Regions from separate parts of the Homo sapiens genome. Here region 2 is linked to region 1. A link means that fine-mapping ties the variant in region 1 to the expression of a gene that starts in the linked region. Tissue or cell type: minor salivary gland. Region 1 holds a variant in brackets; the other region holds the start of a gene. All regions are shown on one strand. Distances are between the middles of the regions.

Evidence for each region. PIP is the estimated chance that this variant, and not a neighbour inherited with it, causes the effect.
Region 2: it holds the start of NMRAL1, and the variant in region 1 is fine-mapped to the expression of NMRAL1 in minor salivary gland (GTEx, PIP 0.94).

What each region holds. Positions count from the first base shown.
Region 1 is chr16:4,780,292-4,788,392 of GRCh38, forward strand. It overlaps SEPTIN12 (septin 12), which reads right to left and starts at 8,054. Exons shown (of 10, transcript NM_144605.5): 1 at 7,989-8,054; 2 at 7,189-7,376; 3 at 5,689-5,814; 4 at 5,516-5,597; 5 at 3,640-3,777; 6 at 3,358-3,475; 7 at 3,171-3,266. The coding sequence starts at 7,354. The variant A/C (reference allele first, on the strand shown) is at 4,026.
Region 2 is chr16:4,471,487-4,479,587 of GRCh38, forward strand. NMRAL1 (NmrA like redox sensor 1) reads right to left here and starts at 3,139. Exons shown (of 6, transcript NM_020677.6): 1 at 3,068-3,139; 2 at 2,607-2,680. The coding sequence starts at 2,646. It overlaps HMOX2 (heme oxygenase 2), which reads left to right and starts at 4,912. Exons shown (of 6, transcript NM_002134.4): 1 at 4,912-5,001. It overlaps LOC124903636 (a long non-coding RNA gene), which reads right to left. Exons shown (of 3, transcript XR_007064964.1): 3 at 7,778-8,075. RefSeq lists an enhancer at 4,708-5,209.

The DNA of each region.
Region 1 (8,101 bases):
TGCCCAGGCTGGTCTCTAACTCCTGGGCTCAAGTGATCCTCCCGCCTCTGCCTTCCAAAGTGGTGGGATTATAGGAGTGAGCTACCACACCCAGCCTGCCTGTCTTCCTATATATAAAGTTTTATTGGCACATAGTTGAGCCTATGAGTCATTTTTGTCTATGGCTGCTCTTGAACCATGACATCAGAGTTGAATCATCACAACAGAGACCCTACGGCCCAGAAAGTCTAAAACATTTACTACCTGGCCCTTTGCAGAAAAGGTTGTTGAACCCTACCGTAAACTCCAGTTGTTTACTTGCTCATGGCCAGAAGCAGAAATTCAAACTTGCAAACTCCGAAGTGACATATATGGGTTTTTACTTCTGAATTCATCTGTGATGGGGAGTAATGTGGATGTTGATAATATTGGGCGTGGTGGCTCACACCTGTAATCCTAGCATTTTGGGAGGTGAAGGCAGGCAGATCACCTGAGGTCAGGACTTCAAGACCAGCCTGGTCAACATGGTGAAACCCTGTCTCTAGGAAAAATAAAAAATTAGCTGGGTGTGGTGGCGCATGCCTGTAATCCCAGCTACTCAGGAGGCTGAGGTGGGAGAATCACCTGAACCCAGGAGGTTGGAGGTTGCTGTGAACGGAGATCCTGCCACTGCACCCCAGCCTGGGCCACAGAACAAGACCCTGTCTCTGCTGGGCACGGTGGCTCACGCCTATAATCCCAGCACTTTGGGAGGCTGAGATGGGTGGATCACAAGGTCAGGAGATCGAGATCACCCTGGCTGAAATAGTGAAACCCCATCTCTACCAAAAAGACAATAATTAGCCAGGCGTGGTATTGTGCACCTATAGTCCCAGCTACTCAGGAGGCTGAGGCAGGAGAATCGCTTGAACCCAGGAGGCAGGGGTTGCAGTGAGCGGAGATCACGCCACTATACTCCAGCTTGGGTGACAGAGGGAGACTCCATCTAAAAAAAAAAAAAAGACCCTATCTCATAAAAAAAACAACATTAAAAACAAAACAAACAAAACATTGTACGGTACGGGGGTTTTTAGTATTTGACCAGGGTTATGCAACCATCATCGCAATCTAATTTCACAACGTTTTCATCACGTCCCCCCAAAAAAACCCCATACCTTTTAGCAATCACTCCCCATTTCTCCCTTCCCCACAGCCCCTGACTACCACCAATCTACTTTCTGTCTCTATAGATTTGCCTATGCCTATTTGGGACATTTCATATAAATGGAATCCCATAATACGTGACCTTTTGTGTCTGACTGATTTTTGTCTGAGAAACATGTTTACAAGGTTCCCCCACGCTGTAGCAGGCAGGTGACAGGGTGACAGTGCTTCATTTTTTTTTTTTTTTTTGAGACAGGGTCTCACTCCCTTGCCCAGGCTGGGGTGCAACGGTGTGATCTCAGCTCACTGCAATCTCCATCTCCTGGGTTCAAGTGATTCTCCTGCCTCAGCCTCCTAAGTAGCTGGGATTACAGGCATGCACCACCACACCCGGCTAATTTTGTATTTTTAGGAGAGACGGGATTTCTCCATGTCGGTCAGGCTGGTCTCGAACTCCCGACCTCAGGTAATCTGCCCACCTCAGCCGCCCAAAGTGCTGGGATTACAGGTGTGAGCCACCGTGCCCGGCCTTTTTTTTTTTTTTTTTTTTTTTTTGAGACAGGGTCTCACTCCCTTGCCCAGGCTGGAGTGCAGTGTCACAATCTCTGCTCACTGCAACCTTCACCTTCCAGGTTCAAGCAATTCTCCTGCCTCAGTCTCCCCAGTAGCTGGGATTACAGGTGCGTGCCACCACACGCAGCTAATTTTGTATTTTTAGTAGAGACAGAGTTTCACCATGTTAGCCAGGCTGGTCTCGAACCCCTGGCCGCAAGTGATCTGCCCACCTCAGCTTCCCAAAGTGCTGGGATTACAGGCATGAGCCACTGAGCCCAGCCTTGAACTGTACACTTTTAAAGGGTGAACTTCATTGCTTTTCATGGTTAAGGGATAGTCCATGGTAGGGAATAGGCCGCACTGTGTTTCCCCACTCATCTGTTGATGCATATTTGGGTTGCTTCCACTTTCGGGGCTAAAATAAATAATGCTGCTGTGAACATTCACGTACACATTTTTCTGTGAATGTACATTTTTGTTTCTTTTGGGTATACACGTAGGAGTTCAGTTGCTGGGTCATAGAGTAACTGCATGTTTAAGCATTTGAGGAACCACCAGACTGTTTTCCAAAGTGGCTGAGCCATTTTACTTTCCCTCCAGCAGTAGGTGAGGGTTTCAGTTCCTCCACATCTTCCACAGCACTTTTTTTTTTAAGCTGGAGTTTTGCTCTTGTTGCCCAGGCTGGGGTGCAGTGGCGCAATCTCGGCTCACCGTAACCTCCACCTCCAAGATTCAACCGATTCTCCTGCCTCAGCCTCCTGAGTAGCTGGGCTTACAGGCACCCACCACCACGCCCAGCTGATTTCTTGTATTTTTAGTAGAGACGGGGTTTCGTCATGTTGGCCAGGCTGGTCTCGAACTCCTGACCTCAGGTGATCCACCCACCTCGGCCTCCCAAAGTGCAGGGATTACAGGGCTGAGCCACTGCGCCCGGCCAACACATTTTTTTTTTCTGAGATGGAGTTTCACTCTTCTTGCCCAGGCTGGAGTGCAATGGCGCCATCTCAGCTCACTCACTGCAACCTCTGCCTCCCAGTTTCAAAATTCTCCCGCTTCAGCCTCCTGAGTAGCTGGGACTAAAGGCGTGCACCACCACACCCAGCCAATTTTTTGCATTTTTGGCAGAGACAAGGTTTCACCATGTTGGCCAGGCTGGTCTCCAACTCCTGACCTCAAGCGATCTGCCTGCCTCGGCCTCCCAAACTGCTGGGATTACAGGCGTGAGCCACTGTGCCCGGCCCAATGTTCTCTATATATTCAGGATACAAGCCCCTTATTGGGTATGTGATTCGCAGACATTTTCTCCGATTCTGTGGGTTGTTAGTGTGAGCTGTTATTTCTTGCTCACCTTGAGCTTGTGGATGAGTAGAGAATCATATCTGCTAGGAATATGTGCACATTTCCCTGAGATGTAGAGAAAGATGAGTCTTTGGATGGAAAGGATGTGTGGGAAGGAAATCACCTCGCCCGCCTCCCGCCCCACAGCCTCTCACCCGTAACTTGCTGTTGAGGATTTTGTCATTGATGTCCTCGTCAAAGCACATCTGGGGGTAGACGTCGATGCAGTGGGTCCTCAGGTTCTGCTGGATCTGGAGATCCCACACAGGTGACCTCAGCCCACCCTGCCCACTCTGCCCTCTGCCCCCGCTGACCCCAGCCCTGCCCGGGCATCCAGATCACCCTGCGCCTGAAGGCCTCTCGCTCCTCCATGGTCAGGCTGTCGGCCCTGGCAATCACGGGCACCACATTCACAGTCCGGCACAGCCGCTGCAGGAACTCAATGTCCAGGGGCCGCAGGCTGCCGGAGGCAGGGCAGTGATGGGGGTGGCGGTGGTGGTGAGTGTATAAACGACAGCAGCAGGGCACGGGGGTGGGGGCAGCCGGCAGCCCATGGTGGGGACCCCTTCTCCTCCTCCCTGCCCCGTGCAGGTGGTCCTCGCCTTGCAGGTGCAGCCCCCTCACCAGTGCCCAGTGGGTGGTACAAAGTACACGCAGCAGTGCACCCGGGTGTCTGGGATGTGGCGCTGGCGGGTGATGAGGATCTCCTCCTGCAGGTACTGCTCGTATTGCTCGTTGATGTAGCCCAGGATGGGGTCCCAGCTGAGGCGGGAGGTGGACCCTCCCCTCAGAACTGTGCTGTGCCCAGAGAGCCCCACCCCTCTCCTCTGTGTCCTCTGGGCGGTCCTCCCTTGGGACGACGAATCGTCCCGGTTGGCCCGGGACCTGTGGGTCACCCCGGTACTTTCCCCCACTTCCCTGCATCATCAGAGACACACAGGGAGACCTCCTGCCATTCTCGGCTTCACTGTCTGTAAAATGGAGACAATAGTAGCACCTACGTTGCAAGT[A/C]AGGGAGGGGTGAGCATTAACTGTATTAAAGGGCCACAGCTGGGCCCAAACCACCAAGGAATCGCGCCTGATGGTTGCAGGGGTCTCCCTCCTCCTCTTCGAGTCCCTTCCCCTCTTGGGTATTGTCAACACTGTAAGTAGCCAAACAGATCCTTTTAAAAACAGGTGTCAGGCCAGGCCCGATGGCTCATGCCTGTAATCCCAGCACTTTGGGAGGCGGAGGCAGGAGGATCGCTCGAGCCCAGGAATTCGAGGCTAGCCTGGGCAACATGGGGAAACGCCAACTCTACAAAAAATACACAAATTAGCTCGGTGGGGTGGCACGTGCCTGTGGTCACAGCTACTCAGGAGGCTGAGGCAGGAGGGTCCTTGAGCTTGGGGAGGTCAAGGCTGCAGTGAGCCATGATCTCGCCACTGCACTCCAGCCTGGGAAACAGACTGAGACACTGTCTCTAAATAAATAAATAAATAAATAAATAAATAAATAAATAAATAAATAAAATGAAACCAGGGCCAGGTGCGGTGGCTTATGCGTGTAATCCCAGTGCTTTGGGAGGCTGAAGCAAGTGGATCACCTGAGGTCAGTAGTTCGAGACCAGCCTGGCCAACATGGGGAAATCCCCGTCTCTACTAAAAATACAAAAATTGGGCCGGGTGCAGTGGCTCACACCTGTAATCCCAGCACTTTGGGAGACTGAGGTGGGCGGACCACCCGAGGTCAGGAGTTTGAGACCAGCCTGGCCAACGTGGTGAAACCCCGTCTCTACTAAATAAATTCAAAAAAGTAGCCGAGCGTGTTGGCGGATGTCTGTAATCCCAGCTACTTGGGAGGCTGAGGCAGGAGAATTGCTTGAACCCCGGGAGGCGGAGGTTGCAGTGAGCAGAGATTGTGCCACTGCACTCTGGCCTGGGTGACAAGAGCGAGTCTGTCTTAAAAAAAAAAAAAATTAGCCGGAAATTGCTTGAACCCAGGAGGCAGAGGTTGCAGTGAGCCGAGATTGTGTCACTGCACTCTGGCCTGGGCGACAAGAGCTAGATTCTGTCTCAAAAAAAAAAAAGATCACACAGCCTGGCTGTTCCAGGTCTGGGGTGTTTCCCAAAGGTTGAAGGGGGAGGGGCACGGACAGGAGGGGACAGCCATGGCTTGGCCCCCACCTTTGAGAACCCACCACTTGTTGCGGGCACAGTGGCTCATGCCTGTAATCCCAGCACTTTGGGAGGCCGAGGCGGGTGGATCATCTGAGGTCAGGAGTTCAAGACCAGCCTGGCCAACATGGTGAAACCCCATCTCAACTAAAAATACAAAAAAAATTAGCTGGGCGTGGTGGCGGGCGCCTGTAATCCCAGCTACTTCGGGAGGCTGAGGCAGGAGAATCACTTGAACCTGGGAGGTGGAGGTTGCAGTGAGCCGAGATCATGCCATTGCACTCCAGCCTGGGTGACAAGAGTGAAACTCTGCCTAAAAAAAAAAAAAAAGAGAGAGAACCTACCAGTTGTCATTGTTGATCTGGTCCCCGAAGCCGGGCGTGTCCGTCACCGTCAGCTTCAGCTTCACACCCTTCTCCTCTATGACTGTGGAGGGAGAGCAGAGTCGGGAGAGACTGGACCCAGGTGGGATGGGGTGGGGCAGGGTGGGGTGAGGTGTGGGCAGGGGCTCACTCACCATGGGTCAGTGAATGCAGCTGCAGCGTCTGGGGTGTGGGCACCCCCAAGCCCGGTGGGTTTGACTTCCACACTTTGGACTTGAACAGCGTGTTCACCATCGTGGACTTGCCCAGCCCGCTTTGCCCTGGGAGTGGCAACCGGATGACAGCAGTTAGGGTGGGCGTTTTAGGCAGTTTTTCTCTAACTCTTTACTTTTCTATTTTATTTTTGGAGACAGGTTCTCACTCTGTCACCCAGGCTGGAGTGCAATGATGCAATCCCCGTTCACTGCAGCCTCGACCTTCCCAGACTCTAGTGATTCTCGCACCTCGGCCTCCCTAGTAGCTGGGACTGTAGGCACACGCCACCATACCCAGCTGATTTTTGCACTGCTTTTTTTTTTTTTTTTTTTGAGACGCAGTCTCGCTCTGTCACCCAGGCTGGAGCGCGATGGTGGGATCTCGGTTCACTGCAAGCTCCGCCTCCCAGATTCACGCCATTCCCCTGTCTCAGCCTCCCAAGTAGCTGGGACTACAGGCGCCCGCCACCACGCCTGGCTAATTTTTTTGTATTTTTAGTAGAGACGGGGTTTCACCATGTTAGCCAGGATGGTCTTGATTTCCTGACCTCATGATCCGCCTGCCTCAGCCTCCCAAAGTGCTGGGATTACAGGCGTGAGCCACCACACCCGGCCTTGCACTGTTTTTTAATTTTTAAGACAGGGTCTCAATCTGTCACCCAGACTCAAGTGATCGCAGCTCACTGCAACCTCCACCCTCAGGTTCAAACGATCCTCCCACCTCAGCCCCCCAAGTAGCTGGGATTCAGGTGCATGTCACCATGCCTGGCTAATTTTTAAATTTTTTTTGTAGAGATGGGGTCTTGCTGTGTTGCCTAGGCTGGTCATGAACTCCTGGCCTCCAGGGATCCTTCTGCTTCAGTCTTGCTCTGTCACCCAGGCTGGAGTACAGTGGCGCAATCTCGGCTCACTACAACATCTGCCTCCCAGGTTCAAGCAATTCTCCTGCCTTAGCCTCCTAAGTAGCTCCTAAGTACAGGCGCCCACCACCACGCCTGGCAAATTTTTGTATTTTTAGTAGAGACGGAGTTTCCCCATGTTGGCCAGGCTGTTTTCGAACTCCTGACCTCAAGTGACCCTCCTGCCTTGGCCTTTCAAAGTGCTGGAATTACAGGCTTGAGCCACCATGCCCGGCCTCATTTTTGTACTTTTTGTAGACATTAGGTTTTGCTAGTCTCAAACTCCTGAGCTCAAGTGATCCACCCACCTCAGTCTCCCAAAACCCTGGATTATAGGTGTGAGCCACCGCTCCAGGCACATTTTTGTCTTTTAATGACTCAGCATTTCTCAAATTTTCAATGACAACATCCCTGTGAGGTGCTATTATCAGGCCCACCTAAGAGATGGGGAGGGGCGACAGGCTGCCAAAGGTGAGGCCACACGCCCAGGCACGCGTAGCACTGTGGGTCTGTCCTGCCGTGGGCCCTACCTCTCACTCACCCACCACCATGATGTTGAACTCAAACCCCATCTTCATAGCCTTGATCTTCAGCTGGTCCAGCACAGCCTCAATGCCCACAGGACCAAGCATCTCGCAGGGTGGGGTGCTGGGGCTGGAGGGCTGCGAGGACAGGCAGGGAGAGGGGGAGCGCCTCAGGGGGTCCATGGGGGCCAAGGGTTCGAGATGCCTGTCACCAGGTGGGTGGGGAGAAGGGGGTCACTGGGGCTCAGAGGAGCCCACATTGACCTCTCCTATCTGAACCCCTATTTGAGCTTGGCCGTTGGCCAACCCCCTCCACACTTCATGCCTCTGGTGTACCCTAAGTGCCTGTAGTCCCAGGGGTGTGGCAAGGGTGCCTGTGGGGAGCTGTTTCTGCAGGGTGCCTCAACACCCATCCAGAGAGGCTCCGCTGCCCAAGGGTCTGCCCTGTCCCCACCTACAGCCCAGGCAGGGGCCTCTCAGGTCGCTTCCCCCAGCAGAGCCTGGAGGGCCAGGCAAAGTCCAGGATGGGTGTTTGCAGCCAGGCTGGAGTCCTGGAGGGGCTTCAGGGAGTGTGTATGGGGTGAAGTGGCTCCCGTCCCAGCAGGAAACTTGGGCAGGGGGCTCAGGAGGAGGTGCCCCCACTTTCCCCAGGGGGACACACAGCAGAGTTGATAGAGAGCGAGAAAGACGGCACAGGCATGAAGGTGACGGAGACAGAGAGAGAGAGACCAAGGTCAGGCAGGGAAGATGGCTGGGAGGGAGCGGTGCGAAGAGCCCACGGGGGGCAGAGAGAGAGAGAAGCAGCCTGCTGTGACACCTGGTGGACGTGGGTCCTGGTGGAGCTTCCAGGAGCTGCCTTGTCCTGGCAGGGCCTGGTGTGTGTGATGGGGGAGGGGAGAGGGTGACAGTTAACCGAAGAATCTGAGCTCC
Region 2 (8,101 bases), 310 kb before region 1:
CATGTGCCTGTAGTCCCAGCTACCAGGGAGGCTGAGGCTGGAGGAAAGCCTGAACCCAGGAGGTTGAGGCTGCAGTGAGCCGTGATCACACCACTGCACGCCAGCCTGGGTAACAGAGTAAGGCCCTGTCTCCAAAAAAAAAAAAAAAAAAAAATTCTTTATTATATGTATATTTTACCTCATAATTAAAAATAATCTATAAACAAATACTGAATTCTAGCTAATGTTATGCATGCTTTAGTATGGAAGGGCGGTGTACACATATCTGCAATTTACACAGAAATGCATCAAAAATAAGGACTGAGGCCGGGCACAGTAGCTCATAGCTGTAATCTAAGCACTTTGGGAGGGTAAGGGGGATGGGTTTTGCTTGAGGCCAGGAGTTTGAGACCAGCCTAGGCAGCAGGGTGAGACCCAGTCTCTACAAAAAATTAAAAAATCAGCTGGGCCTGTTAGCGCTCATCTGAAGTCCCAGCTACTCAGGCGAATGAGTCAGGAGGATTGCTTGAGGCTTGGAAGTCAAAGCTGTAGTGAGTGATGATTGAGCCACTGCACTCCAGCCTGGGCAACAGAGCAAGACCCTGACTCAGAAAAAAGTGTACACCAATGTTCCATGGCAGCATTATTCATAATAGCCAAAAAGTGGAAATAAATCAAGTATCCATCCACTGACGAATGGACAAACAGAATATAGTCTATCCATACGGTGGAATATTACTCAGCCATAAAAATAAGTAAAGCTGTCAGGAGTTCGAGACCAGCCTGACCAACATGGTGAAACCCCGTCTCTACTAAAAAATACAAAATTAGCTGGGTGTGGTGGTGCACACCTGTAATCCCAGCTACTTGGGAGGCTGAGGCAGGAGAATTGCTTGAACCCGGGAGGCAGAGGTTGCAGCGAGCAGAGATCACACCATTGCACTCCAGCCTGGGCAACAAGAGAGAAACTCTGTCTTAAAAATAAAAAAGTAAAGTTGGCCGGGCGCGGTGGCTCAAGCCTCTAATCCCAGCACTTTAGGAAGCTGAAGTGGGCAGATCACCTGAGGTCAGGAGTTTGAGACCAGCCTGGCCACATGGCAAAACCCCATCTCTATTAAAAATACAAAAATTAGCCAGGCATGGTGGCTCACGCCTGTAGTCCCTGCTACTCAGGAGGGTGAGACAGGAGAATCGCTTGAACCCGAGTGGCAGAAGTTGCAGTGAGCAGAGATCACGCCACTGCACTGCTGCCTGGGCAACAGAGCGGGACTCTGTCTCAAAAAAAAAAAAAAAAAGAGTAAAGCCCGGACACACACTACAACATGAACAAACCTTGAAAACATGCTAACTGAAGAAGCCAGAGAGAAAAGGCTACATATTATGATTTTATTCATATGAAATGTCCCGAATAGACAAATCCATAGAAACCAAAAGTAGATTGGAGCTTTCTAGGGGTTGGCTGGGAGGAGTAAGAATGGGGAGTAACTGTTCACGGGTTCATGGAGTTCTTTTTTTTTTTTTTTTTTTTGAGATCAGGTCTCACTCTGTTGCCCAGGCTGGAGTGCAGTGGCACAATCAGGTCACTGCAGCCTTGACCTGCTGGACTCAGGTGATCCTCCCACCTCAACCTCCTAGGTAGCTATAGGTGCATGACACCACGCCCCACTAATTTTTGTATTTTTTTGTAGAGACGAGATTTTGCCCTGTTGTTCAGGCTGGTCTCAAACACCTCAGCTCAAGCGATCTGCCCATTTGGTCCAACTAAAGTGCTGGGATTACAGGGTTGAGCCACTGCACCTGGGCCAGAGTTTCTTTTTGGAGTGATGGAAATTTTCTAAAATTGATTGTGGTGATGGTTGTACAATTCTATGAATACACTAGAAACCAGTGAGTTGCACACTTTAAACAGGTAGATTGTATAGTACGTGAATTATATCTCAATAAAGCTGTTAGAGATATTAAATATGTATAAATAAGAAAAAATAGGAATGAAATAATATGCTATCATTTGAAAAAATGATAACATGTTATCTACTCTGGCAGGATATTCAAGAAACTTGGTAACAGCAATAGATGAGGTGGAAGAGGAGGCTAGGAAGAAGATTTAATTTTGGTATCATGTTCAAGTACTCCTATTCAAATAAGTTAAGTAACTCATTTTTTTTTAATTTGGAAAGCAGGTCTGGCGTGGTGGTTCATGCCTGTAATACCTGCACTTTGGGAGGCCGAGGCGGGTCATCACCTGAGGTCAGGAGTTTGAGACCAGCCTGACCAATATGATGAAACCCCGTCTCTACTAAAAATACAAAAATTAGCCGGGCGTGGTGGCATGCCCTTGTAATCCCAGCTACTCGGGAGGCTGAGACAGGAGAATCGCTTCAACCCGGGAGGCAAAGGTTGCAATGAGCCGAGATCGTGCCATCGCACTGCAGCCTGGGTGACAGAGCAAAACTCCGTCCAAAAAAAAAAAAATTGGAAAGCAATTTGGGCCTCGTTCCTGCGACCACAGCCCCAACCTGGGTCGGGGGTCCCAGTGACCTTACCCCTCCCTGCAGACCCCAGGACGGGCGGTCTTCAGGGCTAGGCGCCCTGGCTCTGCAAGGGCCCCAGTCTGGGGTTTGGCTCACCTGTGCCTCCGAAAACCACCACCAGTTTCTTGTCCACCATGAGGACGAGAATGGGACGAATCCGGTCCAGAGATCTGGGGGTAATGGGAGGCGTGGAGTTGGGGGTGGGGCCGGGGTTCCCGCCAGGAGCGACAAAGGACACCCCCATTGTCTATGCATCGAGTATGTGTCGAAGGGGGCGGCTGGGCCCGGAGCGGCAAGACGCCTGTCCCGAGATATCGGGGTCCCGCGACCCACCTCGTGTCCCTTGGGCCCGATCCCCTCCTCCTTCCCGCCTCCCCCGGTTCCAGTCACCCGCCCCCCGGCCCGGGTCCCACCGGCTGGAGTGACCTCCTCGCCGCGGCCTGGGCGGGACAAGTTCCAGGAGCCCGGGACCCCGATTCTGCGGCCGAGTCCACTGCAGAGGCGGGGATGGAGCTGCGCGCTAGGCGCCAACTCCCTCCCCGCAGCTCCGGCCCCACCTGGCAGAGCGCCGCTCACGGAAGCCCAGCGTCGGAGGACCCCTGGCTGCAGCCGCCAATCCCGACGTGTCGGCCGAAACCCCTCCTCCGGCGCAGTTGGCTCCTCCTGGATCCCGCGGGACTCGGCGTCGTTTCCGGGTTTGCCCGCCCCAGGCACGTGCACAGTGAGTTTGTGTAAATCCAGTTAGACCAAAATGAGCGAGGTGGAGAGCCTCTTAACCGGATGCTACGGGTGATGACTGGGAGGAGGAGAAAAATTACCTCTTTATCTTGCATGAACATCTTAATTTTCAGGTATTGGGCGTCAGGCAAAGATAATTAAAGCTATGTCCATGAGTCTTATCCCTTGAGGCCTTGTCCGCTTGATATTTTCTTTGCCTAACTCACTTTTAAAATTTTATTATTTTTATTTTTTTGAGACAGTGTCTTGGTCCGTCGCCCAGGCTGGTGTGCAGTGGCGCGATCTCGGCTTACTGCAACCTCCGCCCCCCGGGTTCAAGAGATTCTCCTGCCTCAGCCTCCCGAGTAGCTGGGATTACAAGCATGTGCCACCAAGCCCGGCTAATTTTTGTATTTTTTAGTAGAGACGGGGTTTCACCAGGTTGACCAGGCAGGTCTCGAACTCCTGACTTAAAGTGATCCACCCACCTCAGCCTCCCAAAGTGCTGGGAGTACAGGTGGGAGCCACCGTGCCCAGCCCTAACTCACTTCTGAAGTTGCTGCTACTTGCACTGATTTCAGTTTTTTTTTGTTTTTGTTTTTTGTTTTCAAGGTGGAGTCTTGCTCTGTGGCCCAGGCTGGAGTGCAGTGGTGGTGCGATCTTGGCTCACTGCAACTTCCGCCTCTTGGGTTCAAGTGATTCTCCTGCCTCAGTTTCCTGAGTAGCTGGGATTACAGGCAGGAGCCACCATGCCCGGCTAAAATTTTTTTGTATTTTTGGTAGAGACGGGGTTTCAACATGCTGGCCAGGCTGGTCTCGAACTGCTGACCTCAAGTGATCTTCCCGCCTCAGGCTCCCAAAGTGCTGGGATTACAGACATGAGCCACCACACCCGGCCCACGATTTCAGTAATTTCTTTGTGTTCAGTAAAACTAAAAAATGACTCTGGGCTGGGTGCGGTGGCCTGTAATTGCAGTGATTTGGGAGGCCGAGGCGGGTGGATCACCTGAGCTCAGGAGTTCGAGACCAGCCTGGCCAACATGGTGAAACCCCCGTCTCTACTAAAAATACAAAAATTAGCCGGGCGTGGTGGCAGGCGCTTGTAATCCCAGCTATTCGGGAGGTTAAGGCAGGAGAATCGCTTGAACCCGGGAGAAGGGGGTTGCAGTGAGCCGAGATCACGTCATTGCACTCCAGCCTGGGCGACGAGCAAAACTCGGTCTCAAAAAAAGAAAAATCATTCTGTCATTCTGGCCGCTGTTTGAAGAATGCGAATAATGCAACAGGGAGATCAGATACAAGACTGGTAACCGAGGTGTCAGAGTTGAGACTCAGTTTCGCAGATTGCATTGGCAAGTGACCAAGTGGGTGGTGCCACGGTTGACAACCCTATTTCTTACATCACTGAGTGGATGTACAAGGATTAAACCACACTGGGGAAGAAAAGTGCTCAACCCTGAGGCACCCTCACACACCTCGGCTCTTGTGAACACTAGTGTTCCTGCCGAAGCACGCCTACTTACCCCGCTGAGCAGAGCCTGAGCCTGCAACCTCCAGAGACCTGGGGAAAGCCACATACTCCGCTTCCCGCCCCCGGCAAGGGCGTGTCAGCTACAAGGGGCGTGTCATCTCTAGGCCCCGCCCCGCGCTGCGTGCCCACGTTGCGCCGGCCTCGCGCCAGTCCGCTGGGCTGCAGGGACTGCGGCGCCTGAGGGAGTCGCTGACGGGCACGCTGACTGGAGGCTGGCGGACAGGCGACAGCGACCTGCGGCAGGTGAGCTGTCCGCGCCCTCCCGGGGCCTTCCTTCCGCCCGGCTTCTCGGACCGCGCTGCGTCCTTCGCGGGCCCTGCCTCGGTCCAGGCCTTCGGACCTGGGCTTGGCCGGGCCACAGCCCTTTGGGTCCCCTGCGCCGGTCTGAGGGGAGACCCGGCCGGGGGCGGCCGGAAGCTGGGTGAGGCCGGGCAGAAGGACGAAGAAGGGCGTGGAGGGGCTGTCAGGGGAGGGCGAAACCGCGGACGCCGCTCTCCAGAAGTCGTCTCCCCGGGGGCGCGGGGAGGCCTGAATGGCTCTCTTTGGCGTCCCCGTTGGGCCCACCCTCTCCCAGCGTCACGGCTATGCTGGGCGAGGTGACCCCCGGGGTCGTAGCTGGGGGCGTCGGCGGTGCAGACAGGGGATGCCGGCAGAGATTGGAGCCCGGCTTGGCTGTTTCCCGGGCTGTTGGCATTGACCGGGGCTCTGCCCTTCCTCTAATGCCCTTATCTCTATAGGAAGTGCCCCTTGAGTGGGTGTCGTGACTTCACGAGTGAACCCTGGTACGCCCTGGAGCAGAGTCGGACTGGGAGGGATCAAGTGTGGGGGCAGCCGGTTAGTCCGGACGCGGGTTTACCTATTACTTTCTGAGCGCAGTGCTCTGGGTGGATTAATTGCCCTGCAAAAGCTGCCGGGACCTCCTTGCAGTCTTTGCACGAGGCCTGCCTGTGTCATGCCATTTAAATCGCGTCTGGGCCGGGTCGGTGGCTCACGCCTGTAATTCCAGCACTTTGGGAGGCCAGGGCGGGCGGATTGCTTGAGGTCAGGAGTCCGAGACCAGCCTGGCCAACATAGTGAAACCCCGTCTCTACTAAAAATACAAAAATCAGCCGGGCATGGTAACGTGAGCCTGTAGCTCCAGCTACTTAGGAGGCTGAGGCAGGAGAATCGCTTGAACCCGGGAGGCAGAGGTTGCAGTGAGCCGAGATCACGCCATTGCACTCCAGCCTGGGCGACAGAGCAAGACTCCATCTAAAAAAAAAAAAAAAAAAAAAAAAAATCGCTTCTGATGAGCCGGTTGTCGTGGCCTGTGGCTGTCCATCCTTACGTACTGTGTTTTGTTGATGGCGCTACAAACCAGACAAGGTGGAGTGTGATTGAAGAAAGAAACGCTGGCCGGTGCAGTGGCTCACTCCTGTAATCCCAGCACTTTGGGAGGCCGAGGCAGGCGGATCACCTGAGGTCAGGAGTTCGAGATCAGCCTGGCCAACATGGTGAAACCCCGTCTCTACTAAAAATACAAAAAAGTTAAACGGGCGGGGTGGCGCGTGTCTGTAATCCCAGCTACTGGGGAGTTTGAGGTTGGAGGATCACTTGAGCCCACGAAGTGGAGATTGCAGTGAGCTGAGATCGCATCACTGCACTCCAGCCTGGGTGACAGAGTGAGACCCTGTCTCAAAAAAGAAAAAAATAAATTATCACAAGACAAAATTTGTGCTTATCAGGAGTTCACAGTTAAGACATATATAAGCTTACTTGGTGAAATTAGAAAAAGTTATCAGATAAAACATTCAGGTTTAAACACTGGTGAGGGTGTGGGAATTTGTGGAGCCTTGGAAACACACTCATTGAATGACCTCATCTACCTGGGGATGTGAAGAGGGAAATCCTGTGATTCCTCCATTGTCTGACTTGATTTCCTTTTTTCCTTGGCTGTGGCAACATGTTGAAGTGCTGTGAGTCACCAAAAGGGGGAACGTGAGCAACTCTAGAAATGCCAGTGCCAGTGAGTTACAGACAATAAAGCATTGACCGCCTTTAGCTCACCCCTCATCAAGTCTGTTGAAAACTTGTAAAATTGGACAGCTAGAGCTACCTTGATTTTTTGGTTTCCTTTTAACAGCTGACTCTCTTCACAGGACAGTTGGGCTCTACATCAGGATTGCACCCAAAACTGGAATATCACTCCTCCAGGAGGAAGATATATTTGAAAATTAGAATTGTGGGCCCGGTGCAGTGGCTCATGCTTGTGATCCCAGCACTTTGGGAGGCCGAGATGGGCGGATCACCTGAGGTCGGGAGATAGAGACCAGCCTGACCAACATGGAAAAACCCCATCTCTACTAAGAAAAAAATAATAATAATACAAAAATTAGCTGGGCATGGTGGTGTGTGCCTGTAATCCGAGCTACTTGGGAGGCCGAGGCAGGAGAATCACTTGAACCTGGGAGGCAGAGGTTGCGATGAGCCAAGATTGTGCCACTGCATTCCAGCCTGGGCAACAGGAGCAAAACTGCATCTCAAAAAAAAAAAAAAGAAAGAAAGAAAATTAGAATTGTGTATTTCACTGTAAAATTTGAAATTCAGCTTTAACTCCTTGGAAAGGAAAGAGATGAAAAACTTGACCTAGACTGGGTGCGGTGGCTCACGCCTGTAATCCCAGCACTTTGGGAGACCAAGGCGGGTGGATCACCTGAGGTCAGGAGTTCGAGACCAGCCTGGCTAACATTGTGAAACCCCGTCTCTACTAAAAATACAAAAATTAGCCTTGCAAAAAGTAGCCTGTAATCCCAGCTACTCGGGAGGCTGAGCAAGGAGAATTGCTTGAACCTGGGAGGCAGAGGTTTCAGTGAGCCAAGATCATGCCATTGCACTCCAGCCTGGGCGACAAGAGCAAAACTTCATCTCAAAGAAAAAAAAATTCTATCAGAGTGAACAATAAGTAGGATGCTAGCACATACCTGTAATCTCAGCTACTTGGGAGGCTGAGGCAGGAAGTTAATACTTGATGAGCCTAAGTTTTTGGTGTCTTTGGATGCTGCTTGTCGATCTAAGGGGTTTCCAAACGCTTCTTTTTTGGTAAAATTGGGATTATGACTAGGAATCTGTTTTTTGGAGTTTCCCAGGTGATCCTTGTTTGGGGTCCTTGTCTAAGGCACAGGCTGGAAAGAGGAGGGAGTGGACTGGCAGGGAAGATAGAGCAGTAAGCGAATAGAATACCTGGGGAAAGGGACGCCAGAAGAGTGATTGTTGTCTGGTGAACTGTGCTGTCAGTGTGTATGTCAGAAGCCAACAAAGTGGATATTCTCTTCACTCAGCTTAGGGAAAAAATTAATTTTTGTTT